Linked DNA regions of Homo sapiens: region 2 is linked to region 1. The links come from fine-mapping of genetic effects on gene expression. A gene starts in region 1. The other region holds a variant in brackets. All regions are shown on one strand. Distances are between the middles of the regions. Region 1 holds the start of OAS2 (2'-5'-oligoadenylate synthetase 2). Region 2 overlaps OAS2 (2'-5'-oligoadenylate synthetase 2).

Region 1 (5,377 bases):
GATAACTGCACCCTCATGTTTATTGCAGCACTATTCACAAAAGCCAAGATATGGAATCAACCAACGTATCCATCAGCAGCTGAATGGATAAAGACAATGTAGTATATATACACAATAGAATACTATTCAGACACAAAAAGAATGGAATTCTGTCATTTGCAGCAATGTGCATGGAACTAGAGGTCATTATGTTAAATGAAATAAGTCAGGCATAGAAAGACAATATTGCATGTGTTTATGTGGAAGTTAAAAAAAGTTGATCTCATGGAGGTAGAGAGTAGGATCATAGTTACCAGAGGCTGGGAAGTAGAGGAGGAAATGAAGAGAAGTTGGTTAATGGATACAAACATACAGTTAGATAGAAGGGATAAATTCTAGTGTTTGATAGCACAATGGGGTGACTATAGTTAACAATAATTTATTATATATTTCAAAATAGTTAGAAGAGAAGATCTGAACTGTTCTCAACACAAATAAATGATCAATGTTTGAGGTGATGGATATCCTAACTACCCTGATCATTTCACATTGTATCCATGTGTCCAAATATCACATGTACCCCATATAAATATGCACAATTATGTAAAAATAAAAAAACACAGTAGAATGGACAAATGTGGAATATTCACATAATGGAATTGACACAACAATGAAAAGATAAACAACTGTACCCCACAACATAAATTTCATAAACATCATAGGTCAGAGAAACCACGCACTAAAGCACACAGAGCCCATGATGCCATTTATGTAGGGTTCACCCATGCATCCTGGTTTACATTCCCAGCTTTCACACCAAGAGTCCCACATCCCAGGAAACACCCCAATCTTGGATGAACTGGGATAGTTGGTCACCCTATAATTGTAAAACGTTTAAAAACAGGCAAAACGTGTCTATGCTGTTAGAAGTCAGGAGATTGCCTACCTGGGTTTGGAGGTGCTGACTGGATCGGGGGCCCAGGGCTCTGGGGGGCTGAGAATGTTTTGTTTCTGGATCTGGGTGGGGGTTACACAGTTACATTGTTTGTGGCTACCTATCAAGCTGGACACTTTGATCTGGGCACTTTTTCTGTTTTACTTCCATGAGGAAAAAAAAATTGAGAGGCAGGATAGTGTAGTGGTTAAACATGCATGCCCTCAAGCCAATTACCCAGGCTTAAAATCCCAGTTCTGACAATAGCTATTAACCAAACTTGCCTTAGCTTGCTGGCCTGGGCCAGGGCTGGGGACACCACGTGTCTAGATTTCTTTATTGAGGCACTAGCGGATGTGTGCAAGGGGTAGAGACCAAAAAGTGTGGCAGCAGCAGAGAAGGGACGTCAGCAGCTCAGGAGGCTAAGAGGATAGTATTGGGCCATCAGGACCCCCACGCCCCCAATTCTAGGGTCCTGGCATCTCCCCAGTCCCCCTTCCTCCCCAGAGGTCCAGAATTTTCAGCCTCAGTCCTGAGATTTGTGTCCACAAAACCAAATATTTCTAACTGATAAAAGCCACTCCTTCTTGCTGCGGAGAAACCACAAGGCAACCTGGGTAGTTTGAACAAAGTTCTCTAGCCTCCCTAAGTTTACTCCTCTGTACTGTGGAGAGGATAGAAGAAAATCGCAGTGAGTAATCACAGTGAATTCACTGAGCACTGCCAGTCTTTTGCTAAGAACATGATGTGCTCAAGCCTTACGATACTCTGAAGTGGGTATTATGCCTCTCCCCATTTTACAGAGTCAGAGACTGAGGCACAGAGAGGTTAAGTAGCCTGCCCAGTGTCACACAGCTCTGGAGCAAGCGCCTGCTCCAGAGCCTGAGACTCCTACACCACATCCCACCCAAGTGTGGGCCTCGCACATAATAGGCACCCAGCACCCAGTAGCTCGGCCTTGCTGCCGCCGTGGAATCTCCTGCCTCCCAGAGACCCAACCTCAGCCCTGGACTCACTATGGCCACTCCCTGCACCAGGGGGAACTGTTCGGGTTCCTGCAGGACGTCACAGATGGTGTTCACCATCTCGTCGATCAGTGTCTGACATTCTTCGTAGGGCTTCAGGTATTCCTGGATAAACCAACCCAGCTTCTGAGCAGGCACCGAGGACAGCTGGGACTCCCCATTTCCCATTGCTCTCAGCTGGCTGCCGGCAAGACAGTGAATGGTAGGATGGGAGGCAGAGGAATTCTTGCTGCTGCCCAGAGCCAGGAAACTGAAACTGAAGTCTAGAGGCCTCTCTCCACCCACTGCAGCGAGCTTACCAACTCTTGTATCCGGGACAGGGAAACAAAACTAACTTAAGCTCAGAGGCTCTGCCCTGCCCCTTGCAGTGAGTTTACCAACTCCTGCATCCGGGGCAGGGAAACCAAAACTAACTTAAGCTCAAATGCTCTTCCCCGCCCCTTGCAGCAAGGTTTACTGACTCCTGCACCCCAGCAGGGAAACCAAAACTGACTCAAGCTCAGAGGCTTTCCCTGTCCCCGGCAGCGTGGTGACCAGCCCTTCAGGGGCTCCCCAAAACTTGAGGTTAACTAAACAGCCTCTAGAACCCCATTGTGAGGGCTTCATACCTGCTAGATGTCTGTCCTTGAGCACATCGCCTGCCCTCTTCGCGCCTCAATTCCCCCATCTGTAAGCTGGGGGAAAATGGCAGCTCTCTCGTAGGATTAGCTTGATGATTAAATAATACCTGCAAAGTGCTTAGAAGCAGGGGCGCACAGGTCATCTTTTGAGGCTCTGTCCCTTTCCCCCTGTTCTCAGTGGCCAGGGAACTCACATTCAGGGAAAGCGGCAGAGAGGAAAAAGAGACCCAGAGAGGGAACTGACTTGCTCAGGGACACACAGCAAAGCAGGGACCTAGCTGGACTCAGGTTTTGGTCTGCTTCTGGGTAAACACAGGCCCCCGTGTGGTCAGCGGGTGGGAACCTCTGTGTGTCCAGTTTCTCAGCACACTTGTGGACAGCCGAGGGACCGTATGAGGCACTTGTCCAGCCTCGCAAGGGCAAGAAAACACACCCCAAGTGTGTGAGCCAGAAAGGAGACAGACATGCAACTCCTGTGCCCAGAGCTTTGAAAACAAAACTCGCAGAGGACTCCCAGCCAGCTGCCTTGGCCCAGCAATAATAATTCACAGAGAAGGCAAAAATCTCCAAGATGTAGTGGGGGACCAGGGCCCTTCCATACTGGGATGGTTAATTTTATGTGTCAAGTTGGCTGAGCCCAGGTACCCAGATATTTGGTCAAACATTATCCTAGATCTTTTTGTGAAGGTATTTTTTAAAGATAAGATTAACATTTACATTGGTAGACTTTTTTTTTGAGTAAAGTGGATTATCATCTGTAAGGTGGTGGGCCTGATTCAATCAGTTGAAGGCCTTAATAGACTAAAGACTGAGCTCCCCCAAGGAAGAGGGAATTCGGCTGCAGTGCCTTGGCCTCCACTTGCAGCAGCAACTCCTTCCTGGGTCTCCCACCTGCCAGTCTACCCTGCCGATTTTGGATTTGCCAGCCTCCACAATCACATGAGCCAATTCCTTAAAATAAATACCTCAAAATAAATATAAATACCCTGTTAGTTCTGGAAAAACCTCGATTAATGCACATGCTCATTAAGGGCCTTTCCTGCCCTTATCCAACTTTTACTGCAACACCGAGAGGTAGGCAGGCTGGGCAGGCGTAGTCCTAAGGTTCCTTTTTCAGATGAGAACATGGAGGCTCACAAAGGTGGAAACATTTGCCCGTGATCACACAGCTAGGAAGTTGTCAGGCTAGGTTCTCACACTAACACACTGCCTGACTCCAAAGCCTGTGCTTTATTTGTTATTTAAAAAAACACTTTATTTTGAAGTAATTTGAAATGCTGAGAAAATTTACAAGATGCACACAAAGAACTTCCTTAGACTTTTTAGCCATTATATTTTTTACCACATTTGCCCCTCATTTTCTTGCTATTTATACATTTTAGGAGGTTTTTGTTTTGTTTTGTTTTTGAGACAGAGTCTCACTCTGTCACCCAGGCTGGAGTGCAGTGGCGTGATTATAGCTCACTGTAGCCTCACCCTCCCAAGCTCAAGCAATCTTCCTACTTCAGCCTCCTGAGTAGCTGGGACTATAGGCATGCACCACCATGCCTGGCTAAATTTTTAAAATTTTTTGGTAGAAATGGGGGTCATGATGTCACCATGTTGCCCAGGCTGGGCTCGAACTCCTGGCCTCAAGCGATCTTCCCACCTCAGCCACCCAAAGTGCTGGGATTACAGACCTGAGCCACCACGCCCAGCCCTTCATGAGTATTTTTATTCCTGAACCATTTGAATGCATGTTGCATGATTTATGTCCCTTTACTCCTAAATGCTTCAACCTATATCTCCTAAGAGCAAGAATATTGTGTTACAGAAGCACAGAACAATGGTCCAATTCAGACTTTTATCATTGATACAATGCTATCATCTCATAACATATATAATAAATATAATTTTGTATAATTTATATAATATATAATTTATATAACATATATAATAAATATACGTTTATTATATAAATATTGTATAAATATATATTTTGAGACAGACAGAGTCTCACTGTCACCCAGGCTGGAGTGCAGTGGCACAATCTCGGCTCACTGTAGCCTCAACCTCTCAGGCTCAAGCGATTCTTCTGCCTCAGCTTCCTGAGTAGCTGGGACCACAGGCACACACCACCATGTCTGACTAATTTTTGTATTTTTTTGTACAGGTAGGGTCTCACCATGTTGCCCAGGCTGATCTCGAACTCCTGGGCTCAAGTGATCTGCCTGCCTCGGCCTCCCAAAGTGGTAGAATTATAGGTGTAAGCCACTGCATCCAGCCATAAATACATTCTTATATTGAAAAATTTACCAACGATTCCAATACTCTTCTTTATAGCATCCGCACCCCCGCCAACATCTAGGCTCACACATGACATTTAGCTGACGTATGTGACAGACGTGTTTCCTGGGAAGCCCACTAGGAAAGCAATGGTGATGTTTTTACTGGGGGAAGTTTCCTCGGCGTTCATTCTTGAGGTATTTTGATGGCGTAAGTTGAGTAGCTGCCTGCTTGTGGCCCATCTAGTCTGTCCCTATGAACACCAAGATTTAAGGGTCATCTCCATGTTCTGCAGGCCAGCCCCTCCTGGCCAATCCTGGGCCCTACCACTCATGGTGAGCACTGTGTCCCCTAATGGGTGCCATCTCCTGGCCTCTCTTACTCCAGGGTTCCACCATCCCTTTTGCTATCAGTGAGCCTAGCTCCCAAGGGGCCTCACCCACCATCCTGTGATGGCATCTCCTGCAGAGGAGGCTTTCTGAGCTTCTCTGTGATGCTGGCTGGTGTTCTCTTCCTGGTCCATTCCTCGTGGACTTGGTAAAGGGGAATCTTGG
Region 2 (5,377 bases), 30 kb before region 1:
AGAAGCAAGGGAAGGAGGAATAGGGACCATCAAGGGAAGAATGGATGTGAGTGACTCTTTCTCACGGTGAGCCGAGTCTTTAAAAGCGATTGCCAGATGATCTCTAGAAGTTTCTTTTAGAATTATTATTCAGGATTCTATGGCTTCTGGATGAGAACATCTCATTGACAATAGGATGGATCCTAGCTCCACAACTTCCTGGTGTCTGCATTGTCTAAAAAGAAAAACATACGTGGGAGAGCAATGTCTCCTAATAGTTACAATCATTGCTTAAAAGAGTTAGGGGAAAAAAGGGGGGACCTGTATCTGGGAAGGTAACTATTGCCAGAGACAATTTTTTGGTATTTATTTATAATGCATATCTTAATAATTAGAGCTAACCCCACGGTTGGCTTGGCCACCTCTTCCCTACATTCCCCCCAGGGTTGGGGTGTAGGGTTCCTCTAGTGCAAGGGTTCTCACCTAGGGCAGAAGACACATGATAAAGTCTCAAGACACTTTTAATTGTCACAACTGGGTGGCATCTACTGGGTACAGGCCAGAGATGCTGCTCAACATCCTACAATGCACAAGAGAGCCTCCAAACAAAGAACTGTCTAGCCCCAAATGTGAGTAAGTATCAAAGTTGAGAAATCCTGCTTTAAAGAAAGAACCTGGTGGAGAGAACCAAGTATATCTGGAGGGAGGATATCCTGGTGGAATATATCAGGTATATCTTGGTAGGTAGGGAGGGCTTTGGAGAGGTGTGGCAGACATCCTTGGGTGGCCAGTGCAACCCACGTCCACAGTCATCTTTGTAGCCACCTTCAAGTTACAGGTAGCCACATGACATTTCTGAGCAATGAAATGGAAGAAAATTTGCGGATGAAACTTCTAATAAAATCACTGTGTTCTTGACCTTTGGGTATCTTTTCCTTCTTCCTGCTTGGATTGCAAACCTGCCATCTGGAGGCACCGTGGCCGCTTTCAGGGCCATAAGTACTCAAATTAACAGCTAAAGAGGGTGGAGCCAAAAGCCAAAGGCAGAAAGATCTGTGAACCCAGGGGAACGTTTGACAATGTCTGAAGACTTTTGGTTGTCACTGGGAGAGGAGGGCTAGTGGCATCTACTGGGTAGAGACTAGGGATGCTGCGCAGCACCCTACAGTGCATGAATCTGGGGTTACCTGCCTGAGGATCACTTGTAGTGGGGGCTTAGGGGGCTGACCAGCTGTTTAAGCTCCTGTGAGCTGGGTTTCCTTTATTTGTGTCTGAGTTAATTTCAGGTTGCTACAGTAGGAGAAGTTCTTTGATTCAAGCCTGTTACAGGGCTATTTCCAGACAACGCCTCCTTTAGATGACTTTTACCGGCACTTTCCAAGGTGGTATTGGGTTTCCAGTCCCATCCTTGAAGCAGGGAGAGGATAACCATTCCTTTGCTTCTTTTGCCAGAAGATGCCAACACCAACGGTCCCCTCCACCCACGTCACCTGTGGGTTCGGCTGGGTCCAAGATCACAGGCCTGAATGAGAGGTTAGAAGGCATTAGGAGATTCCAAATCCCAGTGACTTCAGAATTTGGGGTCCATCCTATAATACTTTCAGCAATAAGACAATGTGTTCTTACAGCTTAGATGTCAGCAACTCAAATTTACTAGTAGGGTTCAAAGTAACTTTCTAGAGGCCGCGTGCAGTGGCTCATGCCTGTAATCCCAGCACTTTGGGAGGCTGAAGTGGGAGGATCACTTGAGGGCCAGGAGTTCGAGAACATCCTGGCCAACATGCAGAAACCCCATCTCTACTAAAAATACAAAAATTAGCTGGGCGTGGTGGTGCGCACCTGTAGTCCCAGCTACTTCGGAGGCTGAGGCAGGAGAACCAGCTTGAACCCGGGAGGCAGAGGTTGCAGTGAGCTGAGATTGTGCCACTGCACTCCAGCCTGGGTGACAGAGTGAGGCTCTGTCTCAAAAACAAAAACAAAAGCCAAAACCAAAGCAACTTCCTAGAATTAAATTGTATTTGCCAAAAGCGTTTTGAAAGCTGTTAATTGCTATACTCATGAAGGCATAATGAAGGCATAGTCTAAATATCTCCTCCTTGCTATGTCAGCTAAAATATGATACATAATTTAATCAAATACAATGTTGCCAAGAACCCAGGGTAGGCAACCCACCGGGGGTCTCCTTCTCTCTTACTTCTCCTCTATTCTTTTTCAACGCTCCTTTATTTTCTCTCTTTCCTTTCCTCTGGTTTCCATTGTTTTTGTCCCTTGCTGGTGGCCCTAAGCAGATGGATATGATTTCTTACTATTCTTGAAGGTCTGAAAGAGTAGATAAACCCTAACCCAATAAAAACCCTGCAGGATAAATCGGCCCGTGAATGATAGCGTTAATTCTTAGGGACACACTTCCAACTCTAACACCTCTTAGATGAAAGCAGCTCAGGGACGTGGTATCTTGAACCTTCCTTCTCTATTTTTTCTGAACAGCATTTTCTCCTGCCCCTGCTAGGTTTTATCCCTGGAGACTGTGACAGGTTCTGTTGGCTAGCACTTTCCCCCGTCATGCAAGGAATGAATCGTGACCCCAGCAGAGGAAAATCCAGGTTGCTGAGACAGTGTTCAAGGGAATCAGGTTAAGAAAAGTACGGGGCTAGGGTGAAGGCACCTGGTTTTCTGCAACTGGCTCAGTAGAAACTTCCTCACGGTCTCATCTTCAAAGTTGTAATTGACCTTCCAGAAGATGCAGAGCTGCTGATATTGTGTGACCAGCTCCAGGACTGTCCGGAAACCTTCTGCAGTGTCAAAATCCGGCACTCCACTCCCCTGCTCCCAGGCATAGATGGTGAGCAGCTCCAAGGCATACTTTGGGGGCAAAGACCCCTTTGGCTTCAGTTTCCTTTCACACTAGGTAAGAGTGGGAACATCAGACGAACTGGTTAGCCTAGGAGCTCAGTGAGAGCCGCACAGGGACCACAGCAAGGCAACTGAGTCACAGTGTCGTGCTGGTGTGCTCACACTCT[G/A]CAGCTTGGATGTCTAAATTGTACAGCCTACAGGAGTCCACCTGGCAGCAGCACATTTGAGTTTCTTTGTTGTGCTTTTGACCATATATGCCTTCCTAGGACAATAACATAGCTACAGTTTACTAGAAACCCACTGCATGCCAGCTATGGGCCCAGGCATTTACCCACATCATTCCTAATCTTCCCCACAATGCAGGCAGCATGACCTGCATTTTAGATGAAGACTTTGAAGCTGCGGGAAGTGGAGTGACTCACTCAAGGTCACGCCACAGCCCCAAGTCTTCTGACACGCCATGCCAGCTCTCTGATTTTCTGGGATGAAAACTACAGAGTTTGGTCTTGGTTTCACATTTCAGGGAGCTGGACACAGAAAGGAGGCATCTCAGGAAGAGCTGATATCGTGCTTGATGTTTACTGTCATGAGGATGTTCAGAAGCTACTTTGTGTGCAAGTGAGGGGAAACTGGGTAGAGACTAGGGATGCTGCTCAGCACCCTACAGTGCATGAATCTGGGGTTACCTGCCTGAGGATCACTTGTAGTAGGGGCTCAGGGGCTGACCAGTTGTTCAAGCTCCTGTGAGCTGGGTGTATAGAAAATGCAGCCCCGGTTCCACCTACAGCTTCAACCTGCCTTCTGAGAGAGAGCATGTGCGCCGGGAAGCAGAAAAGTCCTATTGGCAATGTGTGGGCATGTGAATCCCAGCTTCCACCCACCCTCTGTAGGCAAGGTCACTTGGATTCCTGCAGAATTCTTTGGCCAGTGTGAGGGCAAAGTAAACCACATGTAGCAGCTTTGATGGGCAGAAGCCATCAACGCCTGACCCAAATGAATAGGGTTAGTGATGGGAACGTCGTAAAGATATCCAGTGGGCAGATTCTCCAAAGTGGCTCAGCCCTCAGCATGGGAGATTGTGGGCAACAGGGCTTAATGTTCATGGCTTACTGGTAAAAATAATAACCCCATGGTCAGAACAAAGACTGTCCTTACCTCTTTGTACCAGTGCTTCACCAGGCGAATTAAATCCTTTAGTTTGGTGGGCCGGGAGCGAATGAAGTTTCGCTGCAGGACTGTGAAACAGGTAGAAAACTCTCCTCCCGGGAGGTCCGAGGATTTATACAGATCAATGAGCCCTGCATAAACCTCGGGGCTGGGTGTGGAGCCAGAACTCAGCTGACCTGGCATGAGGGAGAGATTGACATCCTGCTTTAATACACATAGTAAGTAACAGATTCCAAAACATTTTTGACAAATATGATTTAATTCTTGGAAATTACTGTGAATAGTATTAGCATATTTAAAAGACTGATGTCTAAGACACAGGGAGCATCTCCAGAATAATGAGATATGTAAAAATTATGTGGTCTACACAGGTGCAGCTGGTATTATTAAAGTATTATCTAGACTTAAACTAACAGAGCAGCCACCAGCAATGTGGCCATTTGCACTCACATTCATTAAAGGGAATGAAAATTAAAAATTTAGTTCCTCAGTTGCTGTAGCCACATGTCAAGCTCTCAGTAGTTGTAGAACCCAGACATAGAACATTTTCATGATCACAGAAAGATCTCTGGGACGACACTGATCTGGACTTTGTGAACTACCGCCCCCTGGGCTAAATCTGGTGCGCTGCTTCTTGTTTTTTTTTTTTTTTTTTTTTTTTTTTTTTTTTGTTGTTGTTGTTGTTTTTTGCTTTTTTGAGACAGAGTTTTGCTCTGTTGCCCCAGACTGGAGTGCAGTGGCATGATCACAGCTCACTGCAGCCTCCATCTCCTGGGCTCAAGCAATCCTCCCACCTCAGCCTCCTGGGTATCTGGGACTACAGGCGTGTGCCACCATGCCTGGCTAACTTTGTTTATTATTTATTTATTTATTTATTTATTTATTTTTGGGATGAAGTCTCACTATGTTGCCCAGGCTGGTCTCGAACTCCTGGATCAAGCAATCTTCCCGCCTCGGCCTCCCAAGATACTGGGATTACAGGTGTGAGCCTCTATGCCCAGCCCAACTGCTTGTTTTGTTTGTGTGTTTGTTTGTTTGTTTTCAGACGGAGTCTCACTCTGTTACCCAGGCTGGAGTGCAGTGGCACGATCTCGCACTGCAACCTCCACCTCCCGGGTTCAAGCAATTCTCCTGCCTCAGTCTCCCTGATTACTGGGATTATAGGCACACAGCCCCATGCTTGGAAAAGAGAAATGGGACCAAAATTGTCTACAAGTGTGAAGTATTACTGCCATGACTAATGCCACTTGCTGGGGCCAGGGACCCATGAGTGGCACATGTTTTCAGAGCCCGTAATCAAGTCACGTGGCTCTCCCTCCACCTTCTGTCCACCATCACTTCCAAGCTAAGGTCTGGGGAGCCTTACCCAGTGCATTAA

The links.
Region 2: its variant is fine-mapped to the expression of OAS2 in whole blood (TOPMed, PIP above 0.99).

The regions. Positions count from the first base shown.
Region 1 is chr12:112,975,338-112,980,714 of GRCh38, reverse strand. It overlaps OAS2 (2'-5'-oligoadenylate synthetase 2), which reads right to left and starts at 2,196. Exons shown (of 10, transcript NM_002535.3): 1 at 1,930-2,196. The coding sequence starts at 2,106. RefSeq lists enhancers at 1,032-1,181, 1,292-1,371, 1,542-1,621, 1,842-2,651.
Region 2 is chr12:113,005,211-113,010,587 of GRCh38, reverse strand. It overlaps OAS2 (2'-5'-oligoadenylate synthetase 2), which reads right to left. Exons shown (of 10, transcript NM_002535.3): 7 at 5,366-5,377; 8 at 3,988-4,175; 9 at 2,645-2,883; 10 at 1-1,501. The coding sequence ends at 1,333. Among named protein-coding and RNA genes, the nearest start is that of OAS2, 29 kb to the right of the region's middle. RefSeq lists enhancers at 737-906, 2,653-3,852, 4,285-4,454. The variant G/A (reference allele first, on the strand shown) is at 3,000.